Linked DNA regions of Homo sapiens. The protein of the gene in region 1 interacts with the protein of each later gene in a biochemical or structural test. Each region holds a gene or a part of one and is shown in the gene's direction. Other genes may lie near its edges.

Region 1 (3,810 bases):
GTTGACCACCCAGGCTCAAGTGATCCTCCCACCTAATTTTTTTTTTTCTTTTTTTTTTTTTTTTTTTTTTTGTGGAGACAAGGTTTCACTGTGTTGGCCAGGCTGGTCTCGAATTCCTGGGCTTAAGTGATCCGTCAGCCTCAGCCTTCCAAAGTGTTGGGATTACAGGTGTGAGCCACTGCGCCCGGCTACTTTCTCTGTATGTTGAAGGAAATCATCCTGGTGCCTTTGCAGGGCTGTCAGGAGGACTGATTGGTGAGACACCAAGCATAGTACTTAGGACATAGCATGTCAGTGTTGTTATTGGAGCCACAAGCTGCCACTAACTGTTGGTTATTCTCTATGATGGAGACAGAGGAAAGGGGTGAAGAAAACAAGGTATTCACATCTATTTGGTGCAATAATTTGGAGAAGAGTATAGGGTTACTTTAGGGTCAGGGGTGTTGGTGTATGTTTGAACTTGAACATGGGCAAATATTCTCTAAACTGTTCCTCCTGTTTCTAGAGCCTTCCTCATTCTCTATGTTTTGGTGGATTTTTACATATGTGCAGGGAAGTTAGACTGTAACAACTTGAAGGCAAGGAACTGTCTTAATTTTCATCATTTAAAAGTTCATAGCGGGACACAATTCTTCAACATTTAAGCATTTGCTTGAATGAATGAAAAAGGATCAATGTTCAGCAAATGTTTAAAAGTCATTGATGTTTCTGTATCTGAACTAATTGGTGATATTCCTTTATCATAGACATGGCGAGGGCAAAAGTCAATCTGTGTTTTTGTTACTGTAGTCATATCACATTCTTGCATCCTTACAGCTTTATGTCAGTGCTGTTGGAAAATACACCTTTCTTCATTGACTTACTTGCTCCAAACAGGAACTGAAAGGTGGTAATGGTAGCCAATTGACTTTGAAGTTTAGGTTGACAGAATTCTTTTGCAAATGTGATCTTCCCTGAGTCCCACCCACTGTCTTTTCCTTTGCTCCTAACGTGCCCCTGCTACACTAGTTCTGCCTGCTGTTCTCATCTCTGTGGGTACATGTTTGCTTTTGCTGTCTTCTGTTTGTCCTTTTCCTCTCAGCCTAAAACAACCTGGCAGCCCCTGGTCTCCCTCGCCTAGCCCACAGCTCTCTGTCAAGAAGTCTCTTTCTAGATGGAGGGAAGAATCAAATCTGAATTTTATTTTCCATGTGGCACATGCTTTGGCCACATGGTTTACTTTGTAGTGCATGCTCTTGCTCTTGTTTCCTGCACTGGGCTAGTTCAAGCCTTCACCTGTCTTTTCAAGGCACCTCTTCTGTTCTCTGCCCTCCCAGTCTCCTCCTCTGCAAGCTAGACCAGCCACCCTCCAGGCACTTCATTCACGACACCCCTTTCTTGGCTGAGTTTTCAACCTCTCTGGCCCATTCATTTCAGCATATACACAAGTTGAAGTCTCTCTCTTCTGTTTAAACCACCACCATCCCCCACTACCACACAAATACCTTCCCCTCCTCCGCCCTGTATTCCCCCACCGCACATGCCGCTCCGTCTTTCTCCTTCCCTTTCTGGGTTTTTCCTCTTTTGCCTGCTCTTCAGTGATGACATTTCTCTGTCTTCGGGCCCTGGCTCTCTGTTTTTTTTGTTGTTTGTTTTGTTTTGTTTTTTTTTCCTTCACTCCTGCGTGCTGTTTTTGGATGATAAGACCCTTCCTGTGGCTTTAATTGCTGTCCATATGCGGACAACGTGTGACTCTGTATTTTTAGCCCTGATCTGTTTTCTGAGTGCCAGATGTATTCAGACAACTTTGAAATGGACAGTGCCACTTAGTACCCCAGAGAAACCTCATATTCAACTGGTCTGAAAATGAGTTTCTCATCTTCCTTAGGAAACCTGCTCCTCTTCCTCACTTCCCTCAGTGGGCGGCAGGCGCTGCTGTGCACAGTTGTCCCAGCCCAAGATTACGTGGCATGCTTATCTCTTGCCTCCTCCTTGCTGTCACACCCAGGAGTCACAAAGTCTTGTTGATGCTCCTACAGCTCTGGAATATGAGTCCCCACTGGTCCCTGCCACTGCCTTAATCCAGCTCCTTGTAACTTCTCACCTGTATAATAGCAATGGTCACTGTAGTCCAGTTTCTTTCAAATTACGGCAACCACTCTTTCTGCTACTGCACCCTCCACCACTGCTGCTATTGTTTCTACTACTGCTGGGACTAACCCAGCTCTCAGGTGACAGCCAGGAGATTTATGCATCTTACCTCATACCATCAATCCTCCCAACAACTTTATGAAGGAGATGGTGTTATCTTCATTTCTTCATTTTTTGGAGAAAGCAGCTGAGATCTGAGAAGTTGTCCCTTGTCCTTGTCCAAGTTCACACTGATTCCAAAGTCACTTAGCTATGATGCTCCCATTGCTCCCAGTAGCTCCATTTAAGAAGTGCTGATTGCGGCCGGGCGCGGTGGCTCACGCCTGTAATCCCAGCACTTTGGGAGGCTGAGGCGGGCGGATCACGAGGTCAGGAGATCGAGACCATCCCGGCTAAAAAGGTGAAACCCCGTCTCTACTAAAAATACAAAAAATTAGCCGGGCGTAGTGGCGGGCGCCTGTAGTCCCAGCTACTTGGGAGGCTGAGGCAGGAGAAGGGCGTGAACCCGGGAGGCGGAGCTTGCAGTGAGCCGAGATCCCGCCAATGCACTCCAGCCTGGGCGACAGAGCGAGACTCCGTCTCAAAAAAAAAAAAAAAAAAAAAAAAAAAAGAAGTGCTGATTGCAAACCTTGTCCTTCATGGGTGCTAATTTAATCCTCGCAGTAACTCTGCAAGGTAGGTGAAGAAACTGAAGTACAGGGAGTTTGAGCTGCAGGCCTCCGTCAGAGGCCACATGGCGGGCAGGTGGCAGGGTCTCTGGTTCCTGGGTTGGGCCTCCCGCTCTGTCCCTGCTCCAGCTCCCCACGGTGCTTCAGAGCCACCTCCATGGGCTGCAGCTAGTGTGTTTTCTAAAATCCAGGTGGGATCTTGTTCCGCACAGCCTTCAGGATAAAGCAGGAGCCCCTTAGCACGTGACCAGGGCTCAGGGGTTTCCCTGCCCCAGTCTCTGGACTTGTCTCTAGGCACCCCCAGCCCTGCTGTTTCAGCTATCAGCTGAGTCCCTAAGGCAGCTCAGCAGGAGCCCCTCTGCCATAATCACCTCCACCCCCTCCCCTGCCCCCACTCCCTAGCTGTCTAGCTTGCACCTGTTCTTAGCCTGGTACTTGGCAGTGCCTTCCCAGGAGCTTCTCTGATCCATCTCCTGCTGTCAGGCTGGCTCTGTGGCCTTTCCAGGGTCCCTCTTTCTGTAATCCTGTCTCCCACCCTCACTGCAGCCTCCTGAAGGCAGAATCTTGTACCTTTGCAGCCCTGGTGACTCTCACACACCTGGCTGCACTTGGGTGTCTCTGCTATGGACTGAATGTTTGTGTCTCCCCAGATTCATAGGTTGAAACGCTAGTCCCCAGAGTGATGGTATTTGGAGGGAGGACTTCGTGGAGGTCATTAGTGTTAGGTGAGGTCGTGAGGGTGGAGGTCCTGTGATGTGATTAATGCCCTTAAAAGGGGAGGAAGGGGCCAGAGCTCGCTCTCACTGCCATGCAAGGGCACAGCGTGAAAGCACAGCAAGAAGATGGAAGACGGCCACCTGTAGACCAGGAGGAGGATGCTGGCACCCTGATCTCAGACCTCCAGCCTCTAGAACTGTGAGACAGAAATGCTTGTTGTTGAGCCACTCAGTCTGTGCTATTTATTTGACTGTCAGTGAGTGACAGTGGCTGCATCTTCTGGTTACATGATGTG
Region 2 (3,810 bases), on another chromosome or scaffold:
TAGAGCCTCCTGCCCAGGTTGATACCAGCCAGTGTTTCTGTCCCCCAGGTGGGATGGCCCCGTAAGAACATGGTGAGGGAACTGCTGCGGGAGCCAGCCGGACTCAGCTTAGTGCTGAAGAAGATCCCGATACCGGAGACCCCCCCACAGGTACCTTCCCCTGCCGCCCCCCGACCTGCCTTCAGACCCCCCCCTCCACAGGTACCTGCCCCCACCACCCCCACACCTGCCTTCAGACCCCCCCCAACAGGCACCTTCCCCTGCTGCGCCCCCCTAGCTCCCTTCAGACCCCCCCACAGGTACCTGCTCCTGCTGCTCCCCTACCCCTGTTGCCCCCCAACCTGCTTTCAGACCCCTGTCTCCATTGCTTTGTTCCTGGTTGTTCCCCAGACGCCCCCTCAGGTCCTGGACTCCCCGCACCAGAGGAGCCCATCACTGTCTCTGGCCCCACTGTCTCCCAGGTAACAGGCTCTGTCCAGGTGTGTCTTGGTGGGGAGACCGTGGGCTCATCTCATCCCCCTTGCCCTCCCCAGGGCCCCATCTGAAGACGTCTTTGCCTTTGACCTGTCTTCAAACCCCAGTCCCGGACCCAGCCCTGCCTGGACAGGTAGTCTCAAAGCTCCATGGATGCCCCGGACACGGCATCTGGGCACCCAGTTCTGACCCCAAGCCTGGGACTGGGCTCATAGACTTTCCCTCTCTCTCCTCCCTCCCTGACAGACTCTGCCTCCCTTGGCCCTGAGCCCCTGCCCATCCCCCCGGAACCCCCAGCCATACTCCCAGCAGGGGTAGCAGGGACTCCAGGGCTCCCTGAATCCCCTGACAAGGTAAGCTCAGGGGCTTAGCAAGGGGGTGGGTGGGTCTGGACCTAGATCCTTCTCTCACCCTTCTGCTGTCCTTTCAGAGTCCTGTTGGTCGGAAGAAATCAAAAGGTATGAGGTGCGCTGGACTAGGTGGGGGTTCCCCTGTTTGAGGAGCTGTTAAAAATCTTTACATGCTGGGCAAGACCACCCCCATCCTTCCCACACAGCCTCTCCTGGAAACAGCTCTGTTTCTAGGGTCAGACAGAGCTGTGCTCCCAGTCTGGGCCTCTCACCAGACTAGAGGCTAACCTGTTTGCTGTGACTGAGCAAACAGGTTAGCCTCTAGTCTTCAGTTTGCTCATCTCTAAAATAAGAAGGGTCATCCCACCTCAGAGATGACACATGTAGCATTCTGAGCAGAGTGTGGGTTCAGAGATCTCACTTGGGGATGCTTGTGGAAGGCAGGGAGTAGGTTTAGCGGGGGCACCTTGCCAGCCCCTCACTGCCCAGCTTGTGCTGTGCTGCTACAGGCCTGGCGACCCGGCTGAGCCGCCGGCGGGTGTCATGCCGTGAGCTGGGCCGGCCGGACTGTGACGGCTGGCTCCTGTTGCGAAAGGCACCGGGCGGCTTCATGGGCCCGCGCTGGCGCCGCCGCTGGTTTGTGCTCAAGGGACACACGCTCTACTGGTACCGCCAGCCCCAGGTAAGACCCCATACACAAAAACAGGTAGGCAAGTGAGTCACTTCCAGGCCTCGATTCTCATCTCTATTCTATCATCCACTCTTATTCCTGGTCCAAGGCTTTGATGTCCCCATCTGTAAAATGGGGACTTTATTCAGAGAGAAATGAGTTAATATATGTATAAAAGCAGTTTGGAAAAGGTATCATAGGAGGTATAGAGAAAAATCTTTTTTTTTTTTTTTTTGGAGACAAAGTCTCACTCTGTTGCCCAGGCCGGAGTGCAGTGGCATCATCTCGGCTCACTGCAAGCTCTACCTTCCGGGTTCACGCCATTCTCCTGCCTCAGCCTCCCGAGCAGCTGGAACTACAGGCGCCCGCCACAACGCCCAGCATATTTTTTGTGTTTTTAGTAGAGACAGGGTTTCACCGTGTTAGCCAGGATGGTCTCGATCTCCTGACCTCGTGATCCACCTGCCTCGGCCTCCCAAAGTGCTGGGATTACAGGCGTGAGCCACCACACCCGGCCCTGAAAAATCTGGGCAACATAGCAAGATGGAGTCTTGCTATGTTGCCCAGCCTTGTCTCAAACTCCTGGGCTCAAGCGTTCTGCCTGCTTCAGCCCGCCAGAATGCTGGGATTATAGGCGTGAGCCACCACATCTGGCCGAAAAATCACGTCTATTCTGCCCACTTCTCCTTATCCTTCTGATATTCTGTCCATCCGAATGATGGGCCATTCATTTACTCATTTATTCATTCAGGATTCAGGTGCCTACTGTGAACCCAGCTCTAGGCTGGGCACTATGGACACAGAGAAGAATTGGATGATTTTTGCTTCTCCAGAACTTAGAGGCTAGTAGGGGAGAGGGATGAATACACACTCAAGGACAATGTAGGGACCGTGTGCTAAGATAAAGGGAAAGCCCAAGGGATATGTGGGAGCACAGCAGAGGTGTCCAGTCCATCCTGAGGAGTCCAGATGCCCCCTGACAATGCAATACCTGGCAGTTAGTTGCATGGGAAGGGGAAAGAAAACCAGGAAGAGAAAGCAGCATTCAGAAAGCTCAGGGGTGTGAAGCAGTTTGGTTTGTGTCTACTGAAGGAACAAATGCATGAGCAAGCTCTTCTTGTTTGGTTTTTTGGTTTTTGTTTTTGAGACAGAGTCTTGCTTTGTCACCCAGGCTGGAGGGCAGTGGCATGATCTCAGCTCACTACAGCCTCAGCCTCCCAGGTTCAAGCGATCCTCCTGCCTCAGCCTCCTGAGTAGCTGGGACTACAGGCACATGCCACCATGCCTAGCTAAGTTTTTTGTTTGTTTTGTTTTGTTTGAGACGCAGTCTCGCTCTGTTGCCCAGGCTGGAGTGCAGTGGCGCAATCGCAGCTCATGGCAACCTTTTCCTCCCAGGTTCGAGCAATTCTCCTACTTCAGCCTCCCGAGTAGCTGGGATTACAGGCACCTGCCACCATGCCTGGCTAATTTTTTGTATTTTTAGTAGAGATGGGGTTTCACCATGTTGGCCAGGCTGGTCTCGAACTCCTGACCTCATGATCTGCCCGCCTCAGCCTCCCAAAGTGCTGGGATTACAGGTGTGAGCCACCACACCCGACCTAAGTTTTTAATTTTTTGTAGAAATGGGCTTTTTTCCCAGTCTGGTCTCAAACTCCTAGGCTCAAATGGTCCTCCTGCCTTGGCCTCCCAAAGTGCTGGGATTACAGGCATGAGCCACCATGCCCGGCCTTCAGGCTCCTCTTTTTTTTTTTTTTGGCTGTTTCTCTGATATCTTTGGCTCCCCTTTCCTGGCTTAGAGGCATCCTTTGGCCACATCTCCTACCCTGACCCCAGATTCCAGCCCTGAGCTCCAGAAACAGAGAGACTTGTTAGAGAGCCCAGGAGATGCCTTCTCCTCTCCACAACTCTCAGGAGCCCGAGGGGTAACTAGGAGCTGACTGGGCCTTGAGGGTATTGGGGTTCCAACCTGACCCTCATGCTGTGATCCCCCCAGGATGAGAAGGCTGAGGGCCTCATCAATGTCTCCAACTATAGTCTGGAAAGTGGACATGATCAGAAGAAGAAATAGTTAAGTCTTGGGGTGTGATGGGCTGGGGGATGGAGACAGAAAGGGAGAGGAAGGGTGATGGGGTAGCAGTGGGAGGTGTGGCAAGTGGCTGGGGCGCCCAGAATCCAGCCTCTCTGGGCTGTGGGTGGGCACGCCCAGGCTGAGTGATGCTCCTCCACTACCTGGCAGTGTGTTTCAGCTCACCCATGATGTGTACAAACCCTTCATCTTCGCTGCTGATACCCTGACAGATCTGAGCATGTGAGTGC

What was found.
Region 2: the proteins of PPP1R14C (region 1) and CNKSR1 form a complex in vitro, tested with the Homo sapiens proteins (one large-scale study listed by BioGRID).

The regions. Positions count from the first base shown.
Region 1 is NC_000006.12:150,149,408-150,153,217, forward strand, and holds part of PPP1R14C (protein phosphatase 1 regulatory subunit 14C), read left to right. Parts: intron 1-3,810. UniProt on the Homo sapiens protein: Inhibitor of the PP1 regulatory subunit PPP1CA.
Region 2 is NC_000001.11:26,183,681-26,187,490, forward strand, and holds part of CNKSR1 (connector enhancer of kinase suppressor of ras 1), read left to right. Parts: intron 1-48; coding exon 49-150; intron 151-390; coding exon 391-461; intron 462-533; coding exon 534-607; intron 608-720; coding exon 721-827; intron 828-904; coding exon 905-932; intron 933-1,333; coding exon 1,334-1,506; intron 1,507-3,487; coding exon 3,488-3,561; intron 3,562-3,730; coding exon 3,731-3,802; intron 3,803-3,810. UniProt on the Homo sapiens protein: May function as an adapter protein or regulator of Ras signaling pathways.